Linked DNA regions of Homo sapiens: regions 1, 3 and 4 are each reported to be linked to region 2. The links are microRNA targets in miRTarBase. Many come from high-throughput screens and were not tested one by one. Region 2 holds a microRNA gene; each other region holds the end of a gene's coding sequence. Distances are from middle to middle.

Region 1 (7,882 bases), not on the chromosome of region 2:
TCTTCGGCAAATAGAATGTAGTTGTTTACTTCTGGTTTAGTGTGAAATGGCCTTTCCCCGGGTCAAGCCAGCACCTGATGAAACTTCCTTCAGTGAGGCCTTGCTGAAGAGGAATCAGGACCTGGCTCCCAATTCTGCTGAACAGGTATGTTCTTTTGGCTGTCTTCCAGAAATGTCTCTAAAGCAGTTAAAAGTATTGGTAAAGAGTAACTGTTGGTAAGGTTAAGAATGGTGTTAACAGAGCCTGAAATCCACAAAGGGTTTAATTGTTCTCCTTATTTCTCATTGTGGGTGGAGATAGCCAGGTGGATATATAAACAAATTACATATGCATTCTTATTTTTACTGGGGACAAAGAGTTGTTCTCTTCCCATATATTCAAGGCCAGAATGAAGTGTTTTTAAAGCCCTATGTCAGTATTGAGTCAGCTTGTATGGAAGGGATTAGGAGAAAATATTCAAATTCTGAGAAATTGCTTATAATTTTTCATTTTCAAGTATTGTTTCATACTGTTTTTCAGGCATCTATCCTTTCTCTGGTGACAAAAATAAACAATGTGATTGATAATCTGATTGTGGCTCCAGGGACATTTGAAGTGGTGAGTTTTTGATGATTTAGTTTTAGGAAAGGGCAGCTTTGGTAGTGTGGAAATTGCCTTGGCTCTTGACTTTTAATTTTCAGTTGTCTATTATCCAAAGCCAAGCCTAAAATGAGAAAGTACAGTGGAATTTCTTTGTAGTACTGATCTTGGGGACAAGACTTGTATCATTGTTATGCTAGCTGTGATGTATCAGGCTTTCATGTGGTGGTTTTGGGGGTGATTTCACCTCTGCTACTTCTTAATTTGGGTAACAGGTAGCTGTGTTGTAACAGTTCTGGGAGGACCTAGGCACCTTTTTTTCTTCTAAATTGTTTTTCCCCGAAATCCTTTTTCCAACAGCAAATTGAAGAAGTTCGACAGGTGGGATCCTATAAAAAGGGGACAATGACTACAGGACACAATGTGGCTGACCTGGTGGTGATACTCAAGATTCTGCCAACGTGTGAGTGTGCCTGTTTCTGGTCATGGGAACAGAACATAGCACTTGGATTAGGGGTTTAGGTATCTTTTTTTGTTTTGAGACAAATTCTCCCTCCGTTGGCCAGGCTGGAGTGCAGTGGTACCATTGTAGCTCACTGCAGCCTTGACCTCCACTACAGCAAGTGATCTTCCCGCCTTAGCCTCCCGAGTAGCTGGGACTACAGATGTGTGCTACCACACCCAGCTAATTTTTGTATTTTTTGTAGATACAGGGTTTCACCGTGTTGCTCGGGCTGGTCTCAAACTCCTGAGCTCAAGCAATCTGCCCACCTCAGCCTCCCAAAGTGCTGGGATTACAGGCGTGAGCCACTGTGCCCAGCCCTTACGGATCTTGAAAGCTCAAATTTCTTGTGAGAAAGGATGTTTGTAAGACAAATGTTTCTAGTTTTTGTTTTTGAGACGGATCTCACTCTGTTGCCCTGGCTGGAGTGTAATGGCGTGATCTCGGTTCACTGCAACCTCCACCTCCTGGGTTCTAGCTGTTTTCCTGCCTTGGCCTCCCAAGTAGCTGGGATTACAGGCAAGTGCCACCATGCCAGGCTAATTTTTCTATTTTTAGTAGAGACGGGGTTTCACCATGTTAGCTAGTCTGGTCTCAAACTCCTGACCTCAGGTGATCCGCCCGCCTTGGCCTCCCAAAGTGTTGGGATTACAGGCGTGAGCCACTGCACCCTGCCTGACAAATGTTTTTTAATGAGTGATAAGGGACAAACGCTGGAGTGTGTGTGTCTGAAAGAATGTATAGCAGGTTACTGTACGGCCATGTTTCTCAACTGGAGGTAATTTTGCCACCCAGGGGATATCTGGCAGTATCTGGCGGTACTTTTGATTGTTAAAACAAGGGGGTGCTACTGGCATCAAAAAAGGGTAGAAGCCAGGTGTGGTGGCTGTATTCCCAGCACTTTGGGAGGCTGAGGCAAGAGGATCACTTGACCCCAGGAGTTTGACCAGCCTGTATAACATAGAGAGATCCTGTACCTACAAAAAGAAAAAAATTAGCTGGGCATGGTGGTGCATGCTTTGGTCCCAGCTACTCAGAAGCCTGAGGTGGGGCCGGGTGCAGTGGCTCACGCCTGTAATCCCAACACTTAGGGAGGCCAAGGCCTGGAGTTCAAGACCAGCCTGGCCAACGTGGCAAAACCCAGTCTCTACCAAAAATATAAAAATTAGCCAGGCGTGGTGGTGGGCGTCTGTAATCCCCACTACTTGGGAGGCTGAGGCAGGAGAGTTGCTTGAACCTGGGAGGCAGAGGTTGGAGTTAGCAGAGATCGTGCCAGTGCACTTCAGCTTGGGTGACAGAGTGAGGCCCTGTCTCAAAAATAAGAAAAAAAGAAAAAAAAAGCAGCAGCCTGAGGTGAGAGGATTGCTTGAGCCCGGGAGGCTGAGGCTGCAGTGAGCTGTGATTGTGCCACTGCACTGCAGCCTGGGTGACAAGAGTGAGACCCTTTCTCAAAAAAAGAAAAAGGATAGAGGCCGTGGATGCTGTTAAACATCCTACATCCCCATCACCCCAAAGATTTGTCTAGCCCAAAATGTTATTAACTGCCACTGACCTGAAAAACCCTGCTGTAGAAAGAGGATATGAGTACAGGAGGGGTCCTGTTCCCTGAGTCTTCCAATTTTTCTGCCCAGGCCTTGGCTTTCTCTTATAAAAGTATATATTCTATTACTTACCCTTGCTTCAGCCTTGGATATGGGACAGAAATGAGAGTGCAAAGTAGCTTAGAGATACATAGAAAGTCTAGGCAAATAAATTATTATAACATTATGTCATTTTCTGTCAATTAGTGGAAGCTGTTGCTGCCCTGGGGAACAAAGTCGTGGAAAGCCTAAGAGCACAGGATCCTTCTGAAGGTTTGCATTTGTTGCTGATTCTGTATTTAGTAGCCATAGGAACCAGGTCTTGTAATTGTAAGTACACTTTCAACAAAATCAGATCAGACCAGATGGAAGAGTAAATGCAGAGTTTTATGTTGTGGGAGTTTTTGGCAGGGGCTTCAGGTGTTCAAGGTGTTCAAGGGAGATCTGTTTGATCTCCCTTCTAAAGCTCTGTATTCTAAATTCTCATTCTGGACTTTGTGCTGTTTTAAAAAATCCACCTGTTCCCCCCCACCCTGGATTTAACTTTGATCATCTAATGGAAATGTGAGTTATAGTTTTTGTTTATTCTGTTTTTTCAGTTTTAACCATGCTGACCAACGAAACTGGCTTTGAAATCAGTTCTTCTGATGCTACAGTGAAGATTCTCATTACAACAGTGCCACCCAATCTTCGAAAACTGGATCCAGAACTCCATTGTTAGTTCTTTTTTTTCCATTGCTGGAAAATTTAGGGGATATTCAAAACATGGTATTGTTGCTGTTTAGTTTACTTAGCTTGTTGCTATTCCACATGCAGCTTCCTGGGAATTGAAGAACTTAGGTTTATTCTGAACTTTGCTCTCTCCCTCTGTAATTTGGAAATAGTTTATCAGCTTGCTAGTGGAATTTTCAGATGGGGTGACCAAGAAAGCATTTGGAGGACTTAAAAAGGACTGAGAAAATATTTATGGAGGGGGATAGGCTTTTGAAGAAAACAGATCTTGCATGTTTCTAGTGATTTTTAGACAAGTGATTTGCTGATATGAGAAACACAGGGTGGCTTAAAGAATTGCAGAGTTGGTCGGGTGCGGTGGCTCACGCCTGTAATCCCAGCACTTTGGGAGGCTGAGGCAGGCAGATCACCTGAGGTCAGGAGTTGGAGACCATCCTGGCCAACATGATGAAACCCCGTCTCTACTAAAATAAAAAATTAGTGGGGCATGATGGCGGTTACCTGTAATCCCAGCTACTCAGGAGGCTGAGGCAGGAGAATTGCTCGAACCCGGGAGGCGGAGGTTGCAGTGAGCTGAGATCACGCCACTGTACGCAATCCAGCCTGGACAACAGAGCGAGACTCCGTCTATCCTGCCCTCCTTCCAAGTTTTTAAGACTGTAGCAGTGGTAATGAGTAGCTTGTTTAATGAAAATGTTTCATCCTGGCATATCATGCTTGTCTTTTTAGTGGATATCAAAGTATTGCAGAGTGCCTTAGCAGCCATCCGACATGCCCGCTGGTTCGAGGAAAATGCTTCTCAGTCCACGTGAGTCCCTCTCTAACCATTTGGATTAAGATAAACTTTTTAACTGCAGTGAATAGCAGGATACCCCCATACTTCCTCTGACAGAACTATTTTGCCTGTGACCTCGTGTCTGGATTTTTATTTTTACCTTAAGGAAGCAAATTAAGATTTAGAGAAAGCAGAGAATGTATAGTTCTGGAAATAGCATAGTCAGCTTCAATTCTACCTTAGGCATGGAAATACATGATCGTATTGATTTTAATGTTTGGGTCACTATTACTTTCAGAGTTAAAGTTCTCATCAGACTACTGAAGGACTTGAGGATTCGTTTTCCTGGCTTTGAGCCCCTCACACCCTGGATCCTTGACCTACTAGTAAGTAAAGATGGGCAATTGGAGTTCCTCATCATCCTTATTTACTAGTAGTAGTAGTAGTAGTAGTAGTAGTAGTAGTAGTAGTAACTCTGAAATTCACCAGAGTCTGAAATTTGGTGAAGCTTAAAAGAAATTTTATTGGTAGACAAGTAATCCAATAAAAATTCAACATTTACATGACTCAGAGACATTTGTTTAAAAAAAAAGAAAAAATTCAAAGTTTTTTTTTTTTTTTGTATATTCAATGAAATGAGTAGTTACTGAGTTATAGTGTCCCGTTTTCTTCTCATGACTGCTACCATTTAATCATGGTAGTAGAGAGAAATGAGTGAGCAGCCATTTCAGAATTGCTTCTGAACATGAAAATTTTGGCTAGACTTAGACCTTAATGACCAGTTTTCCTCGTGATCATTTAAGGTTTTAGTTTGATGCCTGTAATCCCAGCACTTTGGGAGGCTGAGGCCAGAGGATCACTTGAAGCCAGGAGTTTGAGACCAGCCTGGGCAAAATAGCGAGACTCTGTCTCTACAAGAGAAAAAAAAAAAAATTAGCCAGTTGTAGTGGCTTGAACTTATAGTCCTAGCTTCTCAGGAGGCTGAGTCAGGAGGGTTGCTTGAGCCCAGGAGTTCGCGGTTACAGTGAACTATGATTGCGCCACTGCACTCCAGCCTGGATGACAAAGTGAGGCCCTGTCTCTAAAAAATAAAGTTCTAGTTATCAGAAGTGCCATTTTGATGGCACACCTACTGGATTTATTATTTTTCAGGGCCATTATGCTGTGATGAACAACCCCACCAGACAGCCTTTGGCCCTAAACGTTGCATACAGGTACAGCATGCTTTGGGTTTAGGGTTGGTTGTAAACTATTTTGTGCATTCCTTTAATACCTCATACCTCCCTGTGTTCTAGGCGCTGCTTGCAGATTCTGGCTGCAGGACTGTTCCTGCCAGGTTCAGTGGGTATCACTGACCCCTGTGAGAGTGGCAACTTTAGAGTACACACAGTCATGACCCTAGAACAGCAGGTATTGGGACAGATATGAACTGAGTTGTTTTGCCCCACTCTTTTGAATACTGCTGCTCAGCAGGCAAAGCGGAATATGGTCTTTACGGGTCAGGAATTTGGGGATTCTGAAAGACTTTGGTCCTGAGATTTAAAAAGCTGTCTTAATCTCTGTTTTCAGAAGGGTATTACTCAAATAAGGTCCTTTGATTTTCCTTGCTTACTCTCACTTTGCTTTCCTTCAGGACATGGTCTGCTATACAGCTCAGACTCTCGTCCGAATCCTCTCACATGGTGGCTTTAGGAAGATCCTTGGCCAGGAGGGTGATGCCAGCTGTGAGTGACCACTGTGGGTCAGGGGTTTTGTATTGTAATCTGGTACAGAGAAGCTGTACACTACTTAAATGTCTTTAATATTTCCACAGTGTAAGTAATGACTTTTATGCTGGGCTACTCGTCTAAATCACCTTTTTCTCTTTCCTAGATCTTGCTTCTGAAATATCTACCTGGGATGGAGTGATAGTAACACCTTCAGAAAAGGCTTATGAGAAGCCACCAGAGAAGAAGGAAGGAGAGGAAGAAGAGGAGAATACAGAAGAACCACCTCAAGGAGAGGAAGAAGAAAGCATGGAAACTCAGGAGTGACATTCCCTTCACTCCTTTTCCTACCCAAGGGGGAAGACTGGAGCCTAAGCTGCCTGCTACTGGGCTTTACATGGTGACAGACATTTCCGTGGGATAGGGAAGATAGCAGGAAGAAAAGTAAACTCCATAGAAGTGTCATTCCACTGGGTTTTGATATTGGCTTAGCTGCCAGTCTCCCATTTGTGACCTATGCCATCCATCTATAATGGAGGATACCAACATTTCTTCCTAATATTCTATAATCTCCAACTCCTGAAAACCCCTCTCTCAACTAATACTTTGCTGTTGAAATGTTGTGAAATGTTAAGTGTCTGGAAATTTTTTTTTCTAAGAAAAACTATTAAAGTACTTCCTAGTAGGGCTCTTGGTCTTTCTGGTTGGTGTTTTTTGTTTGTTTGTTTTTTTGCATGTGGCAACCTTTTTTGCTTTTGGCTTTGTGTACTCTTTTGTTGAAAATGATAATTGAGTCATTTAATTATAAATACTCAGATCACAATTTGAAGCTGTCTTTGAATTAAAGGACAAACTCCTGGAACCTTTCCATATACCAGAGTAAACTAGAATATCATTTTAAGTATTTATTGAATAAAATGATTCTATCAACACTGCTACTGTATTCAAGCCAGTGCAATAAAAAAGTGGGTGGACAGAGGTCATTCACTTTGACTTTGCCTGCCCCCTCCAAATCCCCAGTGTAAACAGGAAAATGAGAAGTCACAGGTAGAGGACATGCTGTCCAGGCCCATGTAACCAGGCATGTAACATACAAAGGAAGCCCCTCTGGTTAACTAGTCCTGAAGAAGGTAAGCCTCACGTATGCAGCTTAAAAAAAAAAGTAGAGGCCTCAGCTCATTTGTGAAAGGAAGCAAGAGCCATAATTAATGTAAGTCCTTTGGGAACCTCATTCTGGCTGTGTGTAGGTTTCCTGGGGCCCCTACATAAATGGGTAAGACGAAGTGCTTCAAACAAACTGTACGGCTCCCTTTTTAATGTCTGAAGGTCTATGGGGACTGTCTCCTAGGATCTTTGCATGTCTGTTGAAACAAGGCAGCTGGGGAACAGTACTTGTGCTACTGAGTCCATAGGCTCATCTGTTATTTGCCTGGGGAGCCAGGGGGGTAAATTCCCGAATCCAGCATTGCTCTCCTGCGGGCTGTTTCCTTGGCAACACTGTGGTTTAGCCGTCTCAGTCGTTCCTACAAGACAAGGAAGGTTTGGAATCTTAACCACTGTGAAAGGCTTGAGAGTGTAAGTGAACTAGGTGCTGAAAAATACCGGGCGTGATCTACCTCAAAGTCAGTCTTCAAAAGTATATATAAGAATGTAGGCCGGGCATGGTGGCTCACACTTGTAATCCCAGCACTTTGGGAGGCTGAGGCGGGTGGATTACCTGAGGTCAGGAGTTCAAGACCAGCCTGACCAACATGGTAAAACCCGTCTCTACTAAAAAATACAAAAAAATTAGCTGGGCATGGTGGCGGGTGCTTGTAATCTGAGGCAGGAGAATCGCTTGAAACCGGGAGGTGGAGGTTGCAATGAAATGAGATCGTGCCACTGCACTCTAGCCTGGGTGACAGAGGGAGAACTCCATCTCAAAAAAAAAAAAAAATGTAGGCCAGGCATGGTGCTCATGCCTATCCCAGCACCATTTAGGAGGAAGTGGCAGGAAGATCACTTGAG
Region 2 (7,988 bases):
TGGGAAGTCCTTAGGCATGGGCATAGTGGGCCCTGGATGCCCAAAGATCTGCAGCTTAGCTGGGGGAGGGGGAGTAAGTGCCCTCCAGCACTGAGGGCTGAGCACTGAGGGATGAAACTGAGTTTCATCAGTTCTCAAGGTCAGCCAGGTTGATGGTTAACAGTTAAAAACAGTATTGGGGCCAGGCACGGTGGCTCACGCCTGTAATCGCAGCATTTTGGGAGGCCGAGGTGGGCAGATCACCTGAGGTTGGGAGTTCGAGACCAGCCTGACTAACATGGAGAAACCCCTTCTCTACAAAAAATACAAAATTAGCCGGGCGTGGTGGCGCATGCCTGTAATCCCAGCTACTCAGGAGGCTAAGGCAGGAGAATCACTTGAACCCGGGAGGCAGAGGGTATGGTGAGCCAAGATGGTGCCATTGCACTCCAGCCTGAGCAACAAGAGCAAAACTTCATCTCAAAAAAACAAACAAAAAACAAAACAAACAAAAAAGTATTGGAGACAGGTGCGGTGGCTCATGCCTGTAATCCCAGCACTTTGGGAGGCCGAGGTGGGTGGATCACTTGAGGTCAGGAGTTAGAGACCAGCCTGACTAACATGGTGAAACCCTGTCTCTACTAAATACAAAAAATTTAGCCAGGCATGGTGGCGCATGCCTGTAATCCCAGCTACTTGGGAGGCTAAGGCAGGAGAATTGCTTGAACCTGGGAGGCAGAGGTTGCAGTGAGCCAAGATCACACCATTGCACTCCAGCCTGGGCAATAAGAGTGAAACTCCATCTCAAAAAAAAAAAAGAAGAAAAAGAAAAAGAAAAAAAAGATATTGGAGGTAGCACTGGTGAGAGAAGAGGTGAATGGCAGGGGGAAGTCTGAGGGGCAGTGGCTTCAGCCTATCCTGTGAGCTCCACAGACTTATAGGCTCTTCTTTCCTCACGGGCTTGGGGTCTGTGATCACAGCCTCTGCCCCTGTGACCAAACCTCCAGCTGGGCCCAATACTCCTCGATGCTTCTGCCCCCAGGGGCTCTGGCCTGTCTATGGCCCCCACCCTACCCATGGTTCTGAGTTAGATTTTTAATTTGTTTTTTGAGATGGAGTCTCATTCTGTCGCTCAGGCTGGAGTGCAGTGGTGCAATCTCAGCTCGGTGCAACCTCCGCCTCCCGGGTTCAAGCGATTCTCCTGCCTCAGCCTCCCGAATAGCTGGGATTACAGGTGTGCTCGACCACACCCAGCTAATTGTTATATTTTTAGTAGAGACGGGGTTTCACCATATTGCCCAGGCTGGTCTTGAACTCCTGACCTCAGGTGATCGGACTGCCTCAGCCTCCCACAGTGCTGGGATTACAGGCGTGAGCCAAGCCCGGCCCTGAGTTAGGTTTTAATCAGAAACCGGGTCTTCCTGCACAGAAGTGGCTCTTGTTGGAATCAGCCCACATCCTCCTACCAGCCTGGGGATCCTGACCCTGCCCTTCTGCCTCTCTCCCTTCATGCCTCTCACCAGAGAACTCCAAGTCCTACAAAGGACACCAGGCAGGGCCATGCAAGCTTGAGGACTGAGGTCAGATTGTCAGGAGCCTTCTGGAGATGGCTCCCAGACTACGCCCCTGTTAACGCTGTCCAGGAAGGCATCCATTTGGGGCAGTGCCTCCTACCCTGCCAGTTCTCCTGCAGCAGGCCGGCAGCTCAGCCTCTCCCTTGGCAGGTGCCCCCAGACCACAGGCCAACCCTCCCTGCAGGCCCAGCATGGAGGGAGGCTGAGGACTCACCTTGGAGAAAGGCTGCAGTCCCAGCCTCTCCCCACCCCCTTCAGAACACCAGCCCCTCAACCGTAGCTGTCAAAGTTTGTGGCCTGGCCTGATGCCCCATCTTATCCACCAGCTAAGTTTGAAGGCAGAAGGGGAAGACTGTCACTGTCACAGGCTCAGCCCGCAAGGTACAGAGCTGGCTCAACATATCCCAAGAGCCAAGCAGACTTTATTTCTGCAGCAATCTCTGCTGGTCAGGGTGCCTGCACTCCTCTACCCACTGCCCTTCATGGCTGCTGCAGTGGCCGCAGCTGTGGCCCATGGCCAGCCACACTGTCAAGGTTCAGCGATGCTGCAGTCATAGCAGAAGTTGAAGTTGGTGGGGGGTGGGGGCACAGGGGGTGGCCGCTCGGGGATGGGCACGTTCTCCAGCTCCAGCAGACGCAGCTTGGTCTCCATGGTCAGCAGCTGCTCCAGGTCCAGCCGTGTCTGCTCGCTGCCCATGGGACTGCCCAGCAAGGCACTGAGCCCATCTGTCCACAGGTAGAACTGGGGGTGGCACAGAGCCGTGAGGGTCTGCCCATCTGCCTCCCCTGCCCACCTGCCGACCTCAGCCTGGCGGACACTCACCTCCCGCTTGGAGGGGGCAATGAAGTTGAGGTACGCTTCCTCCTCCCCACGGTCATAGCTGATTGAGAAGGCCAACTCATAGAGGTCCTGGGGAAGCAAGGGAGCGGGGACACTGAGCAGGGGACAGGGTAGGCGGGGGCGGGTGGGAAGGAGCCCCTGGCCCGCTGTACTCACCTTGTTCTGCTTCCCGGAGCCCTTCTCCCGGACATGGGGGCAGTCCTTGCCTGTCAGGAGTGCCCTCATGTCGGCCACAGGGACTGCAGGAAGAAGGCTGGGCTGAGCACTGCAGCCCTGGCAGCCCCGGGGCCCAGGGCGGTCTGGGGAGAGCAGGTATCTGGCCCCCGCCCCTGCCCGCCTTACGTTGCTCGGGCAGACTCTCCAGGGTAGGCGGGCTGGCGCCCTCCTCCATGTCTCCGTACTGCAGCAGCTTGTGGTTGGGGGACAGGCAGCAGAACCACAGCTTATCTGCGTGGAGAAAGGGAAGAGGGCCAGAGTGCTGAGAGGTCCTGACACCAAGCCAGCCGCCCTCTGCCTGCCCTCTGCCTGCCCTCTGCCCCCTGCCCATGCCCATTCAGAGACCCTGGCGCCGCCGGCTGCTGATCTTGCGGAAGAGCGTCCCCTCACAGAGGCGGAGCAAGCGCTGCTGGCGGATCAGGCCCATGAGCTCTGGCTTCAGCTTCTCCCGCAGCTCCCTGATAGAGGGGTGTCACTGAGCACATCTGACCTGGGGAGTAGCCCAGGGGGCACCAAGGAAGGTAGGGCTAGGACTGAGGATCCATCCCCCCAGACTCACAGTATAGGGGGAGCCAGTGTGCCCTCCTGGTGCAGCCGTTCAGTCTGCCGCAGCCGCAGCACCTCCCCATAAGTGAGCGCATTCACCTTGGTTCGGAAGAGCTCCAGGGAAGTGGGCTTCAGGGCCAGAGTGCGGGCCAGCTGCTCCCGCACCACCTGCATGACCTGGGGCCGCCCAAGCTCAGCTCAGGGCCTAAGCTCTGTACCCAGATCAGCCCCCTGCCCTGGCCCAGGCCTCCCAGCTCCCACCCCACCCACCTTGTCGAAGTCCTCCTGTGTAGCCCGCATCTCCTTCCAGGTCTTATTCAACAGCTGGATGCCCACACAGAAGAGCTCGTGGAAGCTCTGGTCTTGGCCGAAGAACATGGGTGAGAAGTCCTGGGCTGTCTCAGAGCCTGGAGTGGGGGGGCAGGAGGGGCTCAGGGAGAAAGTGCATACAGCCCCTGGCCCTCTCTGCCCTTCCGTCCCCTGCTCTTGGCCATGCTGTGCCCAGTCCAGGCCACTCACAGGGCTCCCCAACACGGAGCAGCTCACACAGCAGCACCGTCAGCTGGATGCTGCCCCGGGCAAAGGGGCACTCGTGCTTGTCCTCGCGGCTGCTGTTCTCCAACACAAACTGGGGGCGCAGAGAATGGGGCAAGGAGTCACAGCTAAGCCCATGGGGACCCTGCCTGGGGGATGCTGCCACCCCCCCACCCTACCCTGTCACCGACCCGGCTGTACGCGCTGGGCGCGTTTCTGGAGAAGTACAACATGTTGTCCAGGGCCAGCAGACCGGGGGGCACGCGCTCCAGGTCCTGTGCTGGGTTGCTGTTCTGGGGGAAGTGGGCACAGGCAGTTCAAGAAGGGCCACGGCCGCCTGGAACAACAGCCCTGGGCTGAGGCAGGGGTGGGGAGTTGGGTAGGGGTGATACTCACAGAAAAGCCCAGTTTGCGGAACTCTCGGGCACAGAGGGAACGGCGACGGTCAGCACTTAGCCCGGCACCCGAGGACTCCCCCTCCACCTCGAAGGCAGCCTGGCGTAGGACCTGCAGCTGCTCCCGCTGCTCCTGGGGTCAGTGTTGGGTGGCGGGGGAGGGGATCAAGATTATAGATTCAAGGCCAAGCTCTAAGCCACCCCCTGCCTTGTCCTCACCAAAGACACACACCTGGCTGTAGGGGTCCAGGGGCGTCCGCATGCGCGGCTCCAGCAGCCCCAGCATGAGAGCCTGCAGTACGTACAGGTGATGAGCCATCTCGTCGCCCATTGGTGCTGCACTGTGGATGATGTTCTGCAGGACAGCCAGTCCCTGGTGTAAGCGAGGGCTCACGGGGAGGGAGGGGCAGAGAGGTCCCCCTGGCCCACCACTTCCTACCTTATAGATGAACTGGCGAAGGTTCCTCTGCCAAAGATAGTCAAGCATGTGCTGAGGGGGTAGAAAGAAAGGGGGCTTAGGCTGGGCGCGGTGGCTCACGCCTGTAATCCCAGCACTTTGGGAGGCCAAGGCGGGCGGATCACGAGGTCAGGAGATGGAGGCCAACCTGGCTAACACAGTGAAACCCCGTCTCTACTTAAAAAAAAAAAAAAAAAAAAAAAAATCAGCTGGGCGTGGTGGCGGGAGCCTGTAGTCCCAGCTACTCGGGAGGCTGAGGCAGGAGAATGGTGTGAACCCGGGAGGCAGAGCTTGCAGTGAGCCAAGATCGCACCACTGCACTCCAGCCTGGGCGACAGAGCAAGACTCCATCTCAAAAAAAAAAAAAAGGGGGGCTTAGAGGATTTTGCTTCAGGGTGGGGCAGCGCCCACCGGGTGCTGCCCCCATCTAGCCACCGATCGACACTCACCTTGCGTTCCACAGGGCTGGCCCCCTGCAGCAAGGCTGTCAGCAGGGCCATGGCCTTGGTTTGCAGCTGCTGGTTCATCCTATGGCAAGAAGAGGGCTCAGTGGAACATTCAGGCTCCAGCCCTGCTCCCTGCATCTGGACCCCAGCCCCAGAGGCTTACACCTGTAGGTGCACCAGCAGCCTATCCAGGGGCACCTCGCTCTTGACCAGCTGGCCCAGGGCTGGGCTGCTCAAGGTCACACTCTCCAGCAGCCCAAGGGCCAGGGGAGGCACGGAGGCATCCATGAGGTTCATGTTCACGTAGCACACCACCTGTAAGGGGCGGGGGTGTCACCACCTCACCCCCATGGAAGACCGGGTCTACCACTGCCCCACTGCTCCACTGCCCCCACCCGCTGCCCTAGGAAAGCCCACCCACCTTCCTCACAAAGGGGATGCTCAGAGTCTCCCAGGACACCACGCCGTGCTCCATGAGCTCTGAGAAGGCCCTCAGGCTGAGGGCCAGCACCTCTCCTAGGCTGGAGGGGGGACATCTGGGGCTGAGCAGGACCACCCCAGGACCAGAAAGACCCACCATCTCCCCCAGCCCACACATCCCTGTGCTCACTCGTCCCCATCTTCAATGATGGTGCCTAGTATCTGGAGCCCATTACGGCTGATGACCTCCCTGGCAAAGATCATGTCCGAGGCCAGCGGAACAAGGCGCCTCAGGGCTTCCCGGCGCCCTTCAGGACTGTTACTCTGCAGCCCACCCAAGAGCTGCTCAGCCTCAAGGTCCTGGCAGGAACGGAGCAGGAGCAGAGGTGAAGAGGCTGGGCATGGTAAGGGTGGGACCTGGAAGTGTGCGGCCCCGGGCGTCAACTAGGTGGCGCAAGGCAGGGCTGGGGCGGGGGCCTCCGGGGCGGGGGGCCTCTGGACCTGGAGCAAAGGGGCAGGGATGGGGAAGGCGGGACGGGAGGGGCATTACTGGGGCCGTGCTGAGGCACAGGATGCTGCCATTCTTGATCTCCGCGCGGTTCTGGAGAAGACAGCAGAAAAGGCAGCGAGGTCAGGGAGGGCTCCGAGGACTGATCAACTGGGGTGTCGGTGAGGGCGGCTGGGGGTGAATAACAGATCGCGCTCCGGTAGTGGGATGAAGAGCCAGAGTTATCGGGGCCAGGTGGGTTAGAGGGGTCGGAAGGCCGAGCTTGGGGCTGGGGAGAGGGGACTCACATTCTCGGTGATGTATCTCCGGTGCCCATCCGCAAACTGCAGGGCGTAACGCTCAGAGTGCGTCAGGCTCCACCTGAGGGGCACGAGGCTCAGCGAGGCCGGCAGGGGGCGCCGCCCCTCCTGCCCTCCCGCCCTCCGCAGGCCCTGGCCCGGCAGCACTCACGCGTCGCACACCTCCTTCAGCACAGCGGCCAGGGGCTTCGCCTGCAAGTGGAGTGGTCATTCTCGCGGCCTGGGCAGGGAGGGATGGGGAGGAGCCTGGGGGGAGGGGTGGGGCGGGCTGCCCCGAGGGCCAGGGGGCTACCGGGAGGTGGGGCAGTGGGGCAGATGGAGGCGGGACCAGCCGGGTGACCTGGTCCAGCTGGATGAGCTGCGGGATGGCGTCACGCATCTTGATGGCAATCTTCACCACGTTCCGCGGAGGCGCCATGGTCCAGCTGGGACGTGGGCGCCTGCACTTTCCGGAGACCGTGCACCTGCGGCCAAGGGTGCACCTGGCCTGGGGCCCCTGGGGACGAGGAGGTCCTCCCTTTCCGAGACCTGACCTCGGTGTCCCGCACTCGCGGCCCAGACTGCTGCTCCTGGCCATGCAACGCGGCCTTCCCAAGGGAGCCGAGGTTAGTTCCGGGTTGGAGTCTGGGGGTAGGAAGGTAGGACGGCTCCGCCTGCCCCGCCCCGCCGAGGCGGCCCCGCCCCACACCAAGGTGCGGCAGGTGGGGGCGGGGAGGGCAGGCTGCCGGAGGCCGCCCCACCCCTAGTTCCAGCAAGGTGACCCACCCAATCACACTGCCAGTCCAGCACAGTCCCAAGGAGGGTCCCCAAAGAACCACATCAGAGCTAGCCTTAGGCATGGTTTTTATTCACTTGAACACTGTACAAATATTACAATTTCCTTTTGCTGCAAAAAGTATAAAAATAATCTTTATATAGGAATCCATTCGTTACTGTAAATCTTTCTAAATCTCTGCAAATGGCTCTAAATGAGGGTAAATGAAAAAGCCGAAATGAAGAGAGGGTTATGGGGCAGCAGGAGGTGGGGCCAATCATCAGGGCTGGACCACCCAGACTCCTCCCCAGAGACCTCTGTTCCTTCTTGGTAGCCGCCCCCACCACCTGCAGGTTCTAGGGCTAAAGGCCCAGCAGAAGTGGGCACGTGAGAGGGCCAGGAGGAGCTGGAGGGTCAGGGGGTGGGGGATAGCGAAGGAAGCTAGAAGTGGTGCTGGCATGTGCCCAGTTCCACCCCACCCTTCCCTCCTAGGGGAAGGAGCTGGCAGAAGCAAGACACTGAGGCTGGCAGGAACAAGACACTGCCCCCTATGGGGGGTAATGGCAGCTCCTCGGTTCTGTGCCACTGGGTGGCAGCCGAGCCTGGGCTGGCGAAGGCCGCAGAAAGGGAGAAGCAAACACTTTGGCTCCACGGTGATGGGGGCTGAGTCCTGTTCCCCTGCTCTGCGAGCACAGAAGTGCCAGCACAGGAGCGGGAGCTGTGGCCAGAACTGTGCGGTGAGGGGAGGCCGGAGAAGCCAGGCGTCTGTGGCTCTCAAGCTCTGTAGGGGTCGGGTGGGAGAGGTCCCCAGGCAACCCCCAGGTCAGACAGTCTGGGTCCCAGCCACACAGGGCATGTCCCTGTCAGTCAGAGGTTGAGAACAGGCACATCAAAGAGGTCACAGACACCTTCACTCTCGTCCAGGTTGTAGATATAATCGTGGTCTCCCGGGGGTGGAGAAAGACGAAGCAGAGGGGCAAACACTGCAGAGAGCACTAGTCTCAGGCCCTGGGCCAGGG
Region 3 (7,822 bases), 63 Mb from region 2:
GGACATAGCACAGGACACAGAGGAGCCCCAGGAGCCGAGCTTCTGACACACCCCTTTCATCTCCAGAGCTAGTGAGGCCATCTGCACATGTGAACTGGAGACAGGCTCTGCAGGGAGGCGGGGGAGATATGGGCTTCTCCCTTTCTCTCCTCATCCTTGTCCTGGAAGGAGCCGGCCTTGGGGTACCATCCTGGACACAGGTGAACTTCAAACAGGTTGGAAAAAGGAAAATCGGATGTGGCAGAGCTGTGGTCCACAACGCACAGTAATTGGACACTGCTGGGAAGCAAAACTGAAGGAGAAACAACCCACCTTGCTTGCTGGGGTGGGTCACAGAGAAGAGGGTCAGAGGCCGAGAGACCAGTTATTTGCCTGAGAGTTTGTGGTCCATGGCAGCTCCGATTTTTTTTTTTTTTTTTTTTTTTGAGACGGAGTCTCCCTCTGTCACCCAGGCTGGGGTGCAGTGGCACGATCCCAGCTCACTGCAGCCTCCACCTCCTGGGTTCAAGTGATTCTCCTGCCTCAGCCTCCCGAGTAGCTGGGATTACAAGCATGCACCATCACGTCCAGCTAATTTTTGTATTTTTAGTAGAGACGGGGTTTCACCATATTGTCCAGGATGGTCTCGATCTCTTGACCTCGTGATCCGCCCGCCTCGGCCTTCCAAAGTGTTGGGATTACAGGCATAAGCCACCGCGCCTGGCCAATTTTTTTTTTTTTTTTTTTTTTTTTTAAAGAGTCAAGGTCTCGCTCTGTTGCCCAGGCTGGAGTGCAGTGGCACAGTCATAGCTCACTGCAGCCTTCACCTCCCAGGCTTAAGTGATCCTTCCACCTCAACCTCCTGAGTAGCTGGGATTATCGTACAGGTATGAGCCACTGAGCCCAGCAGTTCTGTGAATTTCAATTCAACACATTTAGGTTTGTGTGACTACCATCACAGTTTTTATTTTTTTACTTCCCCACCCTGGCTCTGGCACCCCCAGGCACAAAAATTCATTCTATCCATTGACTGAAGCATTTCTTTGACAATTTACCAGTATGCTGGGCCCTAAATACAATGTAGCAAAAAAAGTTATGCTGCCTGCCTTGAGGAGCTTATATTTAGTGGGAGAGCCTGATAGAAACACACAATAAATAGTTATGTATCTACGCCTGTAATTCCGGCACTTTGGGACGCTGAGGTGGAGGATGGCTTGAGTTCAGGAGTTCGAGACCAGCCTGGGCAACATAGCAAGACCCCATCTCTACCTAAAAAAAAGAAATACAAAAGAAACTAGGGCCAGGCGTGGTGGCTCATGCCTGTAATCCCAGCACTTTGGGAGGCCAAGGCAGGTGGATCAGTTGAGGTTGGGAGTTCGAAACCAACTTGGTCAACATGGCAAAACCCTGTCTCTACCAAAAAATACAAAAATTAGCTGGGCGTGGTGGCGTGTGCCGGCAGCTACTCAGGAGGCTGAGGCAGGAGAATCAGCTGAACCCAGGAGGTGGAGGTTGTGGTGAGCCGAGATTGTACCACTGCACTCCAGCCTGGGCGACAGAGGGAGACTCTGCCTCAAAAACAAAAAAACAGAAGAAATGGTGGCAGGCGTGGTGGCATGTGCCTGTACTCCCAGCTACTCAGGAAGCTGTGGTAGGAGGATCACTTGAGCCCAGGAGGTCAAGGCTGTGGTGAGCTGTGATTGCACCACCACAAGCCAGCCAGGGCAACAGAGTGAAAGCCTGTCTCAAAAACAAAACAAAACCCAAAAAACAAATTGACATAAGGGCTGCAAAAAACAAAACAGGAAGGATAAATAAATGGGGACAGGAGCAGCATCGGGGGAGGTGACCAGTAAGCTAAGGTCTGTGGATCATGCCCTTGGCCATATAACTATGGACCCACTTCGCCTTTTATGTTCCCCCCTGGCCCATTTGTGACCCTTGAAGAGTCATGAGAAATAAGCAGAACTTCTAGTTAAAAGATAAGACCTGCACAGTATTTATTAACAAGCAAGAGTGTGAAACAAGCCTCTTCCAGGAGCCGTGCAGCTGCCGTCCTCCACATCAGAGCCGGCTCTGCAGTGCTACAAACACAGAGGGGCAGGGGCAGCTGGAGGCCTGTGGGCCTGGAGAGAATTCTTGCACACTGTTTGGTTGACAGGGAAGGAAACAAAGGCCAGGCCACCAGAACCCAAAGGACTATGAGTGAGGAGGGGGCTCAGGTTGGAAACAACCCAGTCCCAGGCCTGAGGTGGGAATGGGGCTGAGGACCAATGCCTGAGAGCTGGCCTTGTCCACCCTCCTAATGTTTTTTTTGAGATGGAGTCTCACCCTGTCACCCAGGCTGGAATCCAGTGGCGCAATCCTGGCTCACTGCAACCTCCACCTCCAGGGTTCAAGCGGATCTCCTGCCTCAGCCTGCCGAGTAGCTCGGATTACAGGCGCCCACCACCAAGTCTGGCTAATTTTTGTATTTTTAGTAGAGACAGGGTTTCACCATGTTGGCTAGGCTGGTCTTGAACTCGTGACCTCATGATCCGCCCACCTTGGCCTCCCAAAGTGCTGGGATTACAGGTGTGAGCCACCACGCCCGGCCCACCCTCCTAATGTTTAAGCAAGTGCCAAACATGTACCTCCCACAGGCTCACAGGCCTAGAAATACTTTATTTTCTTGAGACATGGTCTGGCTCTGTCACCTAGACTGGAGTGGAGTTGCATGATCACAGCTCACTGGAGCCTTGAACTCCTCAGCTCAAGCAATCCTGCCACCTCAAGATTTCTAAGTAGCTGGGACTACAGGTGCCAAGCCACCACTCCCAGCTAATTTTTTAGAATTTTTTTGTAGAGATGGGGGTCTCACTCTCTCGCTCCTGGGCTCACACATTCCTCCCTCCTTGGCCTCCTAAAGTGTTCAGATTACAGGCGTGAGCCACCATGCCTGGCCCTTTTCTTATATTTTTAAATACATACTACTACTCAGAAGCTATAAAGAAGTCTGGTAACAAATACATCAGGAGCACAAGTGGAAATAAACCAAACCCAGGCCCAGAAAGAGCACTGAATTCTACAGCTGTTGCACGGCCACCTTTTTTTTTTTGAGATGAAGTCTCGCACTGTCGCCCAGGCCGGAGTGCAATGGCATGATCTCCAATCACTGCAACCTCCACCTCCTGAGTTCAAGTGATTCTCCTGTCTCAGCCTCCTGAGAAGCTTGGATAACATGCATGTGCCACCACGCCTGGCTAATTTTTTTGTATTTTTATAGAGACGGGGTTTCACCATGTTGGCCAGGCTGGTCTTGAACTCCTAACCTCAGGTGATCCACCCGCCTCAGCCTCCCAAAGTGCTGGGATTATAGGTGTGAGCCACCTCGCCTGGTCATGCACAGCCACCTCTAATCCCTTGAGGGAAGGATGCTTCAACACAACAATGGTTTCTGTTTAGCAAGAAAATCCACCTTTCTCTTCCAAAGTCTTTCTCTAGACTTCTGCTTTGAAGCAATAGGACATGAATGAGACTCAGGGTGACTGTTCCAGGAATAAGCCCAAGCTTTCACAAGAGACACGGTCTAGCTCCCCACTGCTGTATCCCCAGGAACTAGAATAGGGCCTGGTCCATACTGAGTGTCCACAGTAGGCAGGCAATCAGTATTTCATTGATGAAAATACTGGGAAGTATCTGAGATGAGCAGAATGTCACTGCTGAGCCTCTCCTGTCCGTCAGCTCTTTCCCGAGTCTCTTCTCCACCTGACCCAGCAAACAGACTCTCATCTCACCCTGCTCAGCCCAGAGTGCCAGAGTGGACTGAGCTGTGTATCAGGGCCCCTCTAGCCACGCCAGGCATAGAGCGTGGCTGGGAACCCAGAGTAGCCAAACTATAATACATAAAAATTTTGGTCAGGCATGGTGGCTCACACCTGTAATCCCAGCACTTTGGGAGGCCGAGGTGGGCGGATCACCTGAGGTCAGAAGTTCAAGACCAGCCTGGCCAACATGGTGAAACCCCCCATCTCTACTAAAAATACAAAAATTAGCCAAGCGTGGTGGCATGCACCTGTAGTCCCAGCTACTCAGAAGCCTGAGACAGGAGAATCGCTTGAACCCAGGAGGCAGAGGTTGCAGTGAGCAGAGATGGTATCACTTCACTCCAGTATGGGCGACACAGCGAGACTCCATTTAAAAAAAAAATAAAATAAAATTGAATGTAAAAGATGCAAAGACTGGAAAGAATGAAGGGAAACAATCCAGTGAGGGAGACTGAAATGCAGGGACCCAGGGACATTGGCCAGCTCTCACAGCATGGGCTCCCAAGAAAAAAGTCACATCCAGATTCTAGAACATTCACTCACAGGGGACTGTTGTGTCATGGCAAGCACCCTGCTCTGGAATCCAAGTGAGGGTCAGCACTGTCGGCACCCCAGACCCATCTGCCTCTATGTGCTCTGGGTGGCTGTGAGCACAGGATGAGGCCAGCCAAGTCTCCTGTAACCCCCATAAGCCACCTGCAGAGGCTGTCTGAATTCTTTCAAAGAAGAAATGACCACAATTTAGGTTTGAAATATCTTTTTGCAATAGATAATCTTATTTACATTAATACAGAATCATTTTACATTCCTAAATCAGACACTAATAGATGCTTTATTTTAGTGAATTATAAAGGAAAACAAAAAGGAAACTGTTGAGAAGTGTTCTTCATTAACCTGTCTAACGACAGCCCGAAGATCCTGAAACACATGGAAACTGCGACATGCTACCAGCAGAGGCTGGGGAATGGGGGTTCTGCTCTCACTGAATGGTGGGGAACCTTCAACTGCTTAGCCTGTGCTTTCCTTTTCTGAATCAACATTTACAAAGGAAAAAACAATGATTAGCACTGAATAATTTAAACACACTTCAGAAAATAGATGTCAACAGTGTAAGTGGGAGAACCAAGCCCCTGACTAGCAACAGTGGCAGGGCTTCAGTTCCCAAGGCAGCTGAAGTCTGGCCAGCACAGTGCTGCAATGGGCTGTGGCTCAGCAGAAGGGCAGGAGCCCTCCATGCCTGGCTTACAACAACAGGACTCAATAGTCAGGGACAGGCGGCCATCCCGGATGGGGTGGGAGCAAGGACTGTACATCCTGACAAGGATCACCACCCACACGGTCAGAGCAGAACCCCCAGGGACTCTCTGGGCCTCTACGTGCCTCCCAGGCACCGACTGTGCAGCTGCTTGGTACCCCGGGAATAAAAACTAACTGAGCAGAGCAGCTGATGCCTCGGCAGGGCCCCTCATTAGGGGAGGACGGTGCTGGTGGGGCCTGGGGGCCCCACGCTCCCAGTGAAGACAACCTGTCAGGAAGAACTCATTCTGGAACCTCCCGGAGGTTTGCTGAGAAGGAAATTAATCACTTCGTAACTTGATGCAGCTTAAGGCTTCATTTCTAAGCTGTAAGCATGGCCTTTAACTAAGATATCCACAATATTCAATTCCAAATTAGAGTTTTAGCCCTGCAAGAGTCTAACCATCTCCCTCTGCCTGAGCCAGGGGCCGTCACCTACCAATGGACAGGAAACTGCCACCAGCCTCTGGGGCTGCATCCTACTGCCCGGGCTGTCCACTGTGACCTTTCCGTGGAGAGAGGTGTTGTCCCATGATTTTGCTGTTGCCAAGGCCGTCCAGAGGCTCTGCGGGTGGGAGCTCAGTGCTGCTGTTCTGGAATCCTCCCGTCTCCCAGGTGCCCTGGCCCTTGGAGGGGCTGCTGCTTCCCGGCCTAGTTTCCAGTGGATCTTTTTCCTGAGCCAAAGAGATAGGCTGTTACCTTATACTCAACATTTCAAGGGAACACACCCCTGTGGGGAGCGTCTGTTAATCCCTGGAAAGCAGCTGTGCCAAGAGAGGGGCGAGAACCCCACTTGCTGAGATGAGCATAATAAACCAAAGTGGGTCCCAAGATGACACGGCGAGCAAGCGCTACCCCTGGAGCAGCCCCCAGGCTTGCACAGCCCTGCGCTGTCCACGCAGGAGGGCAGCTTCCAAGCAGGCAGGACGTGAGGAGATCTGAGTTCTAGGCCTGGCTCTGCCTGACTCGCCCTCTGTGACCATGGGCAAGCCGGACCCACCACTGCAGGGGGGCTGTACAACAGCCCCAGCATCGCCACCTCCCCAGGAAGAAGACACAGCCAGAGGCTGGCCGCGGCAGCCCAGCCAGTCCTGCACTACAGGCTGATTGCCACGTCATCTATTCCCTAGGCTGAGAGGCCAGCTCCTAGTGGAGCTAGGTTTACCACACCTTGGACTGGCACCTGTTCCAACTCCTGGGGGTGGGGGCACAATATTGGTTAAAGTGGGAGAAAACCAGGATTAGTTCACAGAGGAAAACAAAGGGAAAAAAAACCTCCAGGGTTTTCCTACCTCGGCTGGGATATCATGAGGTAAACATTTTCTTAAGTTTGGAAAGGAATCCCTCCTCGTCCTCCCCAGCCTCACGCCTAGCCTTGCTTCCTGCGGAGCTATCCATGGTGCTGCCACCTGGGCACAAACAGCAGAAAGAACTGGCGTCATGGGCCTGCACTTCCACAGTCACATCCCAGGGCCCACCTACCCCCGCCTGGCCACCCAGGGGCCCACGTTCAAGAAGCGGCCAAGTGCCACCTCAAGAAGAGTGGGGGCCACTCCTAAGATGGCACAGGATGCCTCACCTTGCAGACGACTGAGGTGAACAGGCCACTCAGAGCCTGAGGGTCTCCCAACTGCTCTTTCAATCAAGGACCCACAGCAGGGAAACAAGAAATAGAGACGGACTATGACAGCTGTCTCTATCTGAGCAACAGTGACAAAAACACAGTCAAGTGCCAGGCACCTCCCAGGCCAGGCCATACACTTCCTTACAGGCAAATTTCACAGATGAAAAAACAAAAAAAGGAGGCACAGAGAGGTTACAGGGTTTACCCAAGGCCACAGAGCCAACAAGCGGGAGGGAGGACTGAGTGCGAGCCCATGCAGTCTGACTCCAAAGCTGAGACTCAACCACCATGCTGTTGGCTATAAGAAGGTAAATAATGACTGCCAAGAAAAACCCTACTCTAGACCAACTGGCCAGATTCCATGCTGCTGTGTGCGCAAAGACCCTGCAGAACAGCCCATGTGGGAGTCACGGCCACGCACAATCCTTTGTCACAGGCACTCCATCTCATCCCTCACATCAGCAGTCTATCTCCCTGAGCAAGTTGTCCCCATTTGGGGCACCTAACCTAAATGCTCTCAACCTAGGGAAGCTGTGCTGCAATTTCTTTAGGGCCCAGGCTGACACCATCTAGAGGTACTTTCTCACACAAACGTGTTACAGATTTGCCAACTACTAGACAAGGAGTGCACACTTTTGTTGTGAGTTAGAATATAGACCTGAACTTGGCATGTTAATTGTAGAGCTCATTTTTAATGTGCTCAGAGACCTAGGCCACGCACAGTGCATAAAAGAGTAAAGGCCTCAGTCTAAGTAAGAAGGTGCCTTCGCTAGTGAAAGGTCCAAAGTTTGGGGCCACAGGTCCCCGGGAAGGGGTGAGGGAGGCTACATAAAACAGAGTGAGACCCAGTCTCAAAAAAGAAAAGGCCGGGCACAGTGGCTCACGCCTGTAATCCCCGCACTTTGGGAGGCCAAGGCAGGCGGATTGCCTGAGCTCAGGAGTTCGAGACCGGCCTCGAACATGGTGAAACCCATCTCTACTAAAATACAAAAAATTAGCCAGGGGCGGCATGCACCTGTAGTCCCAGCTACTCGGGAGGCTGAGGCAGAATTGGTTGAACCCAAGAGGCAGAGTGCGTTGCAGTGAGCCGAGATCACGCCACTGCACTCCGGCCCGG
Region 4 (8,089 bases), not on the chromosome of region 2:
CTGGCCTTGTCTTAGGGGTTTCCAGAACCGTCCTGGTGGTTACACTGGATTTAAAACTTAGGATTTTCTATTTCGAGACTCAATGGATTGCTGCCCTGAGGTTTAAGGCCTGGCATTATGCCTTGCAAGTAGTATCTGGAGGTAAAGAGAGACCAGGTAACTCCATCTAGTGACATTTAGAAGGATGCTAAGTGAGGAGGGAGTGAAGCTTTTTGCATCCTTTTGAGGGACTTCCTGTGCCAACTGGAGCTCTCTATCTACTGTGCAGCTTGTGGATTCCTCAGGCTGGGCCACCATCCTGGCCGTGATCTGGCTGCACAGCAATGGTAAGGACTTGAAGTGTGAATGGGAGCTTCTGGAAAGGAAGGCCGTGGCCTGGATGCGTGCCCATGCAGGTAGGAGCACAATCCTAAGGCCTGTCTCCTTCCCCTTCCCTGGCCTGGCGGAAGGTGACCACAAGAGAGTCCCATTGTCACCTGCCTCCACCATCCTGCTTCAGATCTTTACTAATCTTTCTGCTAGTTCTTTTCTTGGGAGGACAAGGGTGAAATATTAAATTGGGGACAAGGTAGGTGGGTGAGTAGGGAGGGAGAGGGACACAAATGGGGAGTGTGAACTGTGAGAAGGACAAGTGGCATTGATTCTCCTTACTGTCTCAGTACCAAGCTGAGTAGAAGACTAGACTTGGTGCGTGTTCTCCTGGCTGTTTGTTATCTCACTGCAGCTGAGTGTATCTGGGGCCAGAGAAGATTCAAGGAGAATCTGGGTAGCAAGAAAAGAAAAAGCAGGGATATTGAGGACAGATAAAAGCACAACTCAGGGTAGATGATCTGGGAGGTTTGGAGGAGCCTCTAATTGCAATCCTTCATCCCTGCTTCTTGTTTTTCCTCACCACAGGCTCCACCATGCCTTCGGTTGTGAAAGCTGCTATTACTTTCCTGAAGTCATCTGTGGATCCTGCTATCTTTGCCTTTTGAAGATACCATCCAGAAAAAGAAGTGCCTTTAATTTGCTACTGTCATTTCCTCTAGTATCACTTTTGCTGTGATGATGTGTTCTTGTGTATTATAACTCTTTATTTTTTGCCATAAAAGTAAAGGATGCTTACTCCACTTCGCTTCTCTGCTCCAGGTTCACTTTGGATATGATCTTTCTTTTCCCAACATATGCCCTCAGAAAAGTGACAGTGGTCCCAGAACCTATTCCCTTTCTTGAGGGAGTTCAAAACATTCATAGGCAGTAATGTTCCTCCCAGGGTTTCCAGGGAAACAACATGAAAAACAGGTGACATGAACTACAGACTAAAGATTGCAGCATTTATGTTAGAGAATGCTTGAATTAGAGAATTTTCTGCATTATCTTTGTCTGTTCACTTTCTATCTTATATACTTATCAGGGCCATACTGGTAAGCTTGCGTAGGAGGAGTTAGAGGGAAGTTGAAAGCCAACATCTGGATCAATGTAATGTCAAGATCACAAAGACAGAGACTGCAGGGGTCCACTGTGAGAGGTGACACTGTTGGGGACCTTCCTGATTCATTCTTCTTGGGCTTTGCTAGCCTGTACAACCTACATGTCTTTTCTTCCACTGCCTGAAAGACTTGGGTTGAACTATAACTGTTGGAGAGAGATGTTCCTCTTTAATCATGAAACACCTTAAGAAGTCTATAATGCAATCCTTAGTCCTACCCTGAACCTATGTGTCCTCTAAGTCAGGCCCTGATCTAGTGCAGTAAAGGGAAGGGTGGGCTTAATGGGAGCTTTGCCTGGGACCTGAACCTGGAGCACTTACCGCATTAGGAAGAAAGGAGCTCCCCGTAATCGTTCCTGACCCTTGTGTCTCATATACCCTATCCTGGTGGAAATGACCCTATTTGATATGCTGTCCCTTAAAATAACTTGTATCAATATTAAAATGACTATTTCTACCCTTTGATGAGTAAATGCAGTGGTTCTTAAAGTGGTCTCGTCTCCCTACCCCACAATATTTTGGTACTGCCACTTTGGGAAGCCAAACTAGGATAGTAAATTGACCGGAACACAGTTGTGGAAATTTGACCTGAAGTTAGTGAAATAAAACTTAGTAGGGAAAAAAAGCTTAGCAAGAGGTCTACTCCTCCATAGATTCATTTATTGAACTTACATTGGTTTTATTGTCCCTTGTTTTCTGTTCCAGCTTTTCTGATGCCTCCACTGTTCCCATGGTATCCTGACCCTCTATCTTCTGTTGTAGGCTGACTTCTTTTATATGAAGCAAGTAAAGGATACTAATAAGAATACCACTGTAGAATCCTGACCATACCCTTAAATAGTTATGTGATGATGGGCAAATGATTTCACCCTCAGGCACTTAATATCCTCATCTGTAAAACTAAGGGATTAAACTAGAACTTTATTAACACTTTCGAGTTCCACTCAGAATTCCTAGAGGAACATCGGTGACTTTTCACTCAGAAAGTGGGTGGACTAGGCCTGAGTTTCTTTAAGTTGTTGAGTTACCTGGTATTAGGAAGACTTGTGTGACTTGCATAGTGGACTCTAATCTCTCAGTCTTTCTTCCAAGTTTGTTTATGCTGAATGTGATCTGCGGAACAGGGTTGTTAGAAATGCAGCTTTTTAGAAATGCAGAATTTTAATCGATACCAGGAACTACTTTATTTAACAAGGCTCCCAGGTATCATGCATGCACATTGAAGTTTGAAAAGTAAAGGCTTAATATTTTCATGAAATAGGCTTATATCCAAGCCTGCCATCTAGATAGGCCCTACCTATGTAATTTCAGAAAATAGTTTCTTAAGGACCGTGAAACTTGTATAGTTAACCTCTGTGCACACAATGCTGTGACTTTACATTTATTATGCGGAGCGCTTATCGTTTACCTCCTTTTTTCTCACCCTTCAACTTCCAGACTGGGGCTTGTGGACTTAGTGCGGGGCGTTCTAAAACAAAAACTAAACGAACTAAAAGAAACAAAAAAAAAATTATCAACCTGTCTTTTGACCTCTTTAAAATAAGACAACTACAGTTTTAAAGTGGCGTGGTTTTATTTTTCCATTTGGGCTCCTGCACAGTGAAATGTTGTGCCAACTGTAAATTCCTCGAATCTAAACAAGTGTCAGTCTTCATAATCAGCAAATGGCATTTTGGCACATTTGTTGAAACCCCATTTCAAGTCTGATGCTTTATGTTTTGGGAAAGTATAAAGAACCATCTGTAATTTCAGAAACTGGTGGTCCAGGCAAGGAGCCCAGGAGAGAAGCTGTTCTCATCTCCCATTAGTTGCCTTTATCTAGTGCTTGTTTCCCCCACAGCAGCAGACTTGGCCACAGGAAAAGTGGCAGATACCATTCCCTCAAGATTCTTCCACTCAAACAGGCCAGGAGCTCCCCTGGAGGGTTCTCTGTTCTACACAGACTTACTAATGAAATCCATCCTCCGTCTTCCCCAACTCTAACACAGTCCCACTCAGGGTCACTGAGCATCTGCTCTTCCTCTCCCAACTCACAGCAATTCCTTCCTTAAAAACAGTCCATCTGCTTTCTGGAGTATCTGATTGACCAGGAGAAAACCAAAAAAAAAAACCCATGCAGTGAACTGTGTATTTTATCAGTTTTTACCTCATATATTTTGATATTCTCCTAAGTGCATATACATTTAAAATTATCATACATCCTTGGAAAATTGACTCTTTTATCATTATTTAATGCTCAACTTTATTCCTGATTTTTGTTGTTGTTGTTCTGAAGTTGGCTTTGTCTGAAATTTACGTAACTACTGCAGCTTTCTGCTGATTGGTTTTGGCAGGGTGTATCTTTCTCCATCCCTTCACTTTTAGCCTATATGAGTCTTTTTATTTAAAGTGGATTTTTGGAAACAACATGTGGTTGGGTCTTATTTATTTGTTTTTGTTTGCTTTTAATCCACTCTGGCAATCACTACTTTTAAATTATCGACCCATATCATCTATATTTAGAGTAATTATTGATAAAATTAGGTTAATATCTACCATGTTTGTCAACTGTTTACTATTTATTGCATTTTTTTCTTTTATTTTTTCATTTTTGCCTTTTCTCACTTTAACCAGGCATTTTGTGTGATTTCATTTTATCTCCACTCAATATATCCATCATATTTCTTAAGAATTTTTTTAGTTTTAGCTCTGGGGTTTGCAATATGCATTTATCACTAATTTAAGCCCACCTTCAAGTTACACTATATCACTTTACATGTAGTGCAGTTACCTTATAACAGAGTATTCCTAATTCCTTCCCATCCACTATGACATTGCTGCCATTCATGTCACTTATGTCTATATTTTAACTACCTAATTGTTACTATCATAACTTTAAACAGTTATCTTTCAGATCGATTAATAAGAAAATGAAAATACATATTTCACTTTTATTTATTTCTTCCTGACATTTCCTTTCTTTGCATAGATCTGAGTTTCTTACCTGTATCCTTTTTCTTCTTCCGGAAGAATTTGTCTTAAAACTTCTTGTAGAACAGATCTGTGGGCAATGGATTCCCTTAGTTTTTCTTTTTGTCTGGGAAAGTCCTTATTTCTTCTTCACTTTTGAAGCATAATTGTGCTGAACTTATAGCTCCGTGTGTGTGTGTGTATGTGTGTGTGTGTGTGTCTATTTTTTTTTGAGACAGATTCTCGCTCTGTCACCCAGGCTGGAGTGCAATGGCGTGATCTCGGCTCACTGCAACTTCCACCTCCTGGGTTCAAGTGATTCTCCTGCCTCAGCCTCCCGAGTAGCTGGGACTACAGGCACATGCCACCACACCTGGCTAATTTTTTTTATTTTTAGTAGAGACGGGGTTTCACTGTGTTAGCCAGAATGATCTCGATCTCCTGACCTTGTGATCCACCTACCTTGGCCTCCCAAAGTGCTAGGATTACAGGCATGAGCCACTGCGTCCAGTCGTCTTGTCTTTTAACACTTTAAATATTTTACTTCAATCTCTTTTAGCATGAATAGTTTTTGGCAAGAAATATGCTGTTATTCTTTTTCCTCTATAGGTAAAGTGTTCTCCCCCTCCTGCCCCGCAGACTTTTGGGATTTTCTCTTTGTCTTTGGTTTTCTGCAGTTTGAATATTATATTTGTAAATGTAGGGCCTTTTGTATTTATCCTTTTGGTGTTATTTGAACATTCTGAATCTGTAATTTTGTGCTTTTCATTAATTTTGGAAAATTTTTGCTATAACTTCAACTATTTTTCTGCTTAGTTTTTTCTTGTATTTCAATTGCATGTTACACTGTTTGAAATTATCCTGTAAGTTTTGAATGTTCTGCTCTGTTTTTCCTATGTGTTTGTTTTTTATTTTGTTTTTGTTTATATCTTTACATTTAAGTTTAGGAAGTTTCTATTGGTCTATCTTCCATTCCAGAGATTCTTTATATAGCCATGTGAATGTGTGTTTGTTTTTTATTTGGTTTTTGTTTTTATCTTTACATTTAAGTTTAGGAAGTTTCTATTTGTCTATATTCCATCCCAAAGATTCTCTTCCAGGTTTGTAAATGTCAGCAGTGACTCTGAAGTCACCTGTCTCTCAGGATTTCAGAATGACTATTTACCTGTGTTCTCAGTTTCTAAAGGGTACAGATAAATGAGTTTTGTATTATTCCATTCTTGCATTGCTATAAAAAGAAAACCTGAGACTGGGTAATTTATAAATAAAAGGTTTAATTGGTTCACAGTTTGGCAGGCTATACCAGAAGCATAGCAGCTTTTGGGGAGGCCTCGGGAAACTTAGAATCATGATGGAAGGCAAAGCAGCTGGTGTCTTCATGTGGCCAAAGCAGGAAGACGAGAAAGAGGAAGGAGGTGCTACCCACTTTTAAACAACCAGGACTCGTGAGAACTCTGTCGCAAGAACAGCACCAAATGGGGAAATCCACCCCCATCATCCAATCACCTCCCACCAGGCCTACCTCCCACACTGGGATTACAATTCGACCTGAGATTTGGGTGGGGACACAAATCCAAACCATATCATGTTTGTTCAGCTTTTTCTTGTGGTAATGGTGAGAGTGATGGTTTCCAAACTCTTTGCATGTTATAGTTGAAACTGGCCTCCATGTAGTCTGATCTACCAAATCTCCACACTTCACTGACCCTTCATTTACAGAACTGTACTTTTTGGAATTTCAGAGGTAGAAAACATTCTTTTTTCTATTGTGGTCTATCCAAAGTTAAAAGTTTGGGTTTGTTTGTTTTGCACATAAACCAGTTTTTATTACTAAGTGATGTAACAAACAGACATCCTTAATGGTGAGATATGAAAATGAGGTGAGGTGTGGGGAAGAATTCAGTAATGCAGTGAGGGTCAATAAATAGACAGAGTCTCAGGTAGGGATGAGGGTATAATGTTAGGCAATTCTTCTTAAATAATAATAAGCATAGTCATAAAGCTGAAAGTGGAATTGTATAGAAATATAGTCAGGCTTACTTTTAAATATATATATATTTAAAAGTATATATATATACTTTGTCAGCGATCAAGCTCTATATAGACTTTAGAATCCATGCCTTTTTTAGTCTTTATTTCACTTTAAAAAAAAAACAGCTTAGTGAAGTGTAGTTTATGTACTGTGAAATCCATTCACTCACTTTAATTCTTTTTTGAGGTACTGTAATTAACAGTTTAACATTCAGTGGATTTTTAGGGTAAAGACGCTTAAGCTTACAAGCATGTTTTCTGCTTTACTGAGGTACAATAGACAAATAAAAATGATCACTCTGTCTTTTGATTGGAGAATTTATTTCATTTACATTTAAAATAACTATTGATAAGTGAGGACTTATCACTGCCATTTTAATTGATTTCTGTTTGTTTTGTAGTTGGCTTGTTCTTCTCTTGCTTTCTTCCTGTATTTGATTTTTTTTTGGTAGCAATTTGCTTTGATTATTTTCTCTTTATGTTTTGAGACTTTTCTTTGTGGTTATCTTAAGGCTTTCATAAAAATAGCTTGTATTTATAACCATCTATTTTAAGTTAGTAACAACTTCAACTGCATACAGAGACTCTATGATTGAAAGTATTATTATTTTTTGCTTTTAAAAATAAAAAATGTGAAATAGCTACTTGTTTTGAATATTAAGAACAAAGATTATAATACTTTATTAATAAATTAGCTGAATTATCTGATTTTGGGAGAATCTGTAATCACTAATAGATAAAACCATTAAAATGAATGTTACAGATACAATTAATACACAGCTATATATTTTCCATTTTGTACCAAATATTTATACAATAATCATCTTATAATAATGTTCAGGTGTAAATAAATATATGAATGACACTACCACCCTGGTCCAAGATACATAGTGTTGCACATATTCAAAACAACTTTATCAATTATGATAGATTAAAAATTAGCACTTCTGCTGTTGTGATTTCTTAATGTCCATGGCTAAACAGACACACATTAAATGCAGAAGATATTATAAAATGAAGCTGTAGTTCAAGCAGATCAGATTTATCTGAGGAATAGATAGAAATATTCTCTTATAACTATCTATTAGAATGCATGATCAAAGGACGTGTGACGTTTGAAGGCAGAGATTCTGAATTTGGGTTCAATAGTTTCTGAAGCTCCAAGAACTGATAGTTGGTTCCAAATGGACTTAATATTGATTGAGACACCAAATACTTTCAGGCTCACATTTCCATTGAGAGATGGAAACTAGTGATTCATTTTAGACATCAAACTGCTCCATCTGATTCCAAGGACTGGTCCAGTGTTCTAGCCTGTTATGGTTACCTGACTTATATCCCAACAGGTTACAGGCTTTGAAAGTGGGAGTGGGATCAGATAGAAGCATGAAAATTTGTTTAGGAATTAGTGATGACTGAGGATTTCAAATCACTCAAGAGCGTTTCCAAGGATTCAAGTCCCTGATATTGCTTTCATTTCCATCTCTCCCCAATAAAAATGCAGAATATTTTCAGTTCTATATTCCCCCACTAGGTGGGTCACACCTCATCCATAGAAACCATCAAATTTTTAGGATGCCAAGAACTTTTCCACCAGGAAAAAAAAAATGATAGGAAGGGAAGAAGAACAAAAGGAAG

Evidence for each region. The annotated mature microRNA hsa-miR-328-3p reads CUGGCCCUCUCUGCCCUUCCGU and lies in region 2 at 3,612-3,633, shown strand. An mRNA with a match to its seed (bases 2 to 7 or 8) in the 3' UTR can be bound and repressed. Matches are read on the target gene's strand: a 7mer-m8 pairs with bases 2 to 8, a 7mer-A1 pairs with bases 2 to 7 and ends in A, and an 8mer does both.
Region 1: miRTarBase lists SNAPIN as a target of hsa-miR-328-3p. The part of its 3' UTR that is shown has no 7-base or 8-base seed match.
Region 3: the mRNA of DNAJA3 is a reported target of hsa-miR-328-3p. Seed matches in the 3' UTR shown: 7mer-m8 at 5,703-5,709.
Region 4: miRTarBase lists VWA5A as a target of hsa-miR-328-3p. Seed matches in the 3' UTR shown: 7mer-m8 at 1,395-1,401.

What each region holds. Positions count from the first base shown.
Region 1 is chr1:153,660,716-153,668,597 of GRCh38, reverse strand. SNAPIN (SNAP associated protein) reads right to left here. Exons shown (of 4, transcript NM_012437.6): 4 at 6,746-7,398. The coding sequence ends at 7,297. It overlaps ILF2 (interleukin enhancer binding factor 2), which reads left to right. Exons shown (of 14, transcript NM_004515.4): 4 at 41-145; 5 at 521-598; 6 at 941-1,043; 7 at 2,870-2,935; 8 at 3,262-3,378; 9 at 4,124-4,202; 10 at 4,468-4,555; 11 at 5,322-5,383; 12 at 5,465-5,579; 13 at 5,803-5,893; 14 at 6,042-6,810. The coding sequence ends at 6,202. Among named protein-coding and RNA genes, the nearest start is that of SNAPIN, 6.0 kb to the right of the region's middle.
Region 2 is chr16:67,197,972-67,205,959 of GRCh38, reverse strand. It overlaps MIR328 (microRNA 328), which reads left to right and starts at 3,565; the gene lies at 3,565-3,639. It overlaps E2F4 (E2F transcription factor 4), which reads right to left. Exons shown (of 10, transcript NM_001950.4): 10 at 7,042-7,952. The coding sequence ends at 7,837. It overlaps ELMO3 (engulfment and cell motility 3), which reads right to left and starts at 6,829. Exons shown (of 20, transcript NM_024712.5): 1 at 6,556-6,829; 2 at 6,367-6,407; 3 at 6,204-6,276; 4 at 5,959-6,009; 5 at 5,599-5,768; 6 at 5,410-5,509; 7 at 5,152-5,303; 8 at 4,992-5,070; 9 at 4,525-4,575; 10 at 4,318-4,440; 11 at 4,087-4,218; 12 at 3,882-3,983; 13 at 3,676-3,784; 14 at 3,427-3,563; 6 more. The coding sequence starts at 6,633. The coding sequence ends at 2,083. RefSeq lists a silencer at 7,434-7,493.
Region 3 is chr16:4,453,479-4,461,300 of GRCh38, reverse strand. It overlaps DNAJA3 (DnaJ heat shock protein family (Hsp40) member A3), which reads right to left. Exons shown (of 12, transcript NM_005147.6): 11 at 6,374-6,490; 12 at 4,526-5,755. The coding sequence ends at 6,387. Among named protein-coding and RNA genes, the nearest start is that of NMRAL1, 17 kb to the left of the region's middle. RefSeq lists a silencer at 1,566-1,766 and an enhancer at 4,613-5,583.
Region 4 is chr11:124,144,969-124,153,057 of GRCh38, forward strand. VWA5A (von Willebrand factor A domain containing 5A) reads left to right here. Exons shown (of 19, transcript NM_001130142.2): 18 at 269-395; 19 at 898-2,753. The coding sequence ends at 977. Among named protein-coding and RNA genes, the nearest start is that of VWA5A, 34 kb to the left of the region's middle.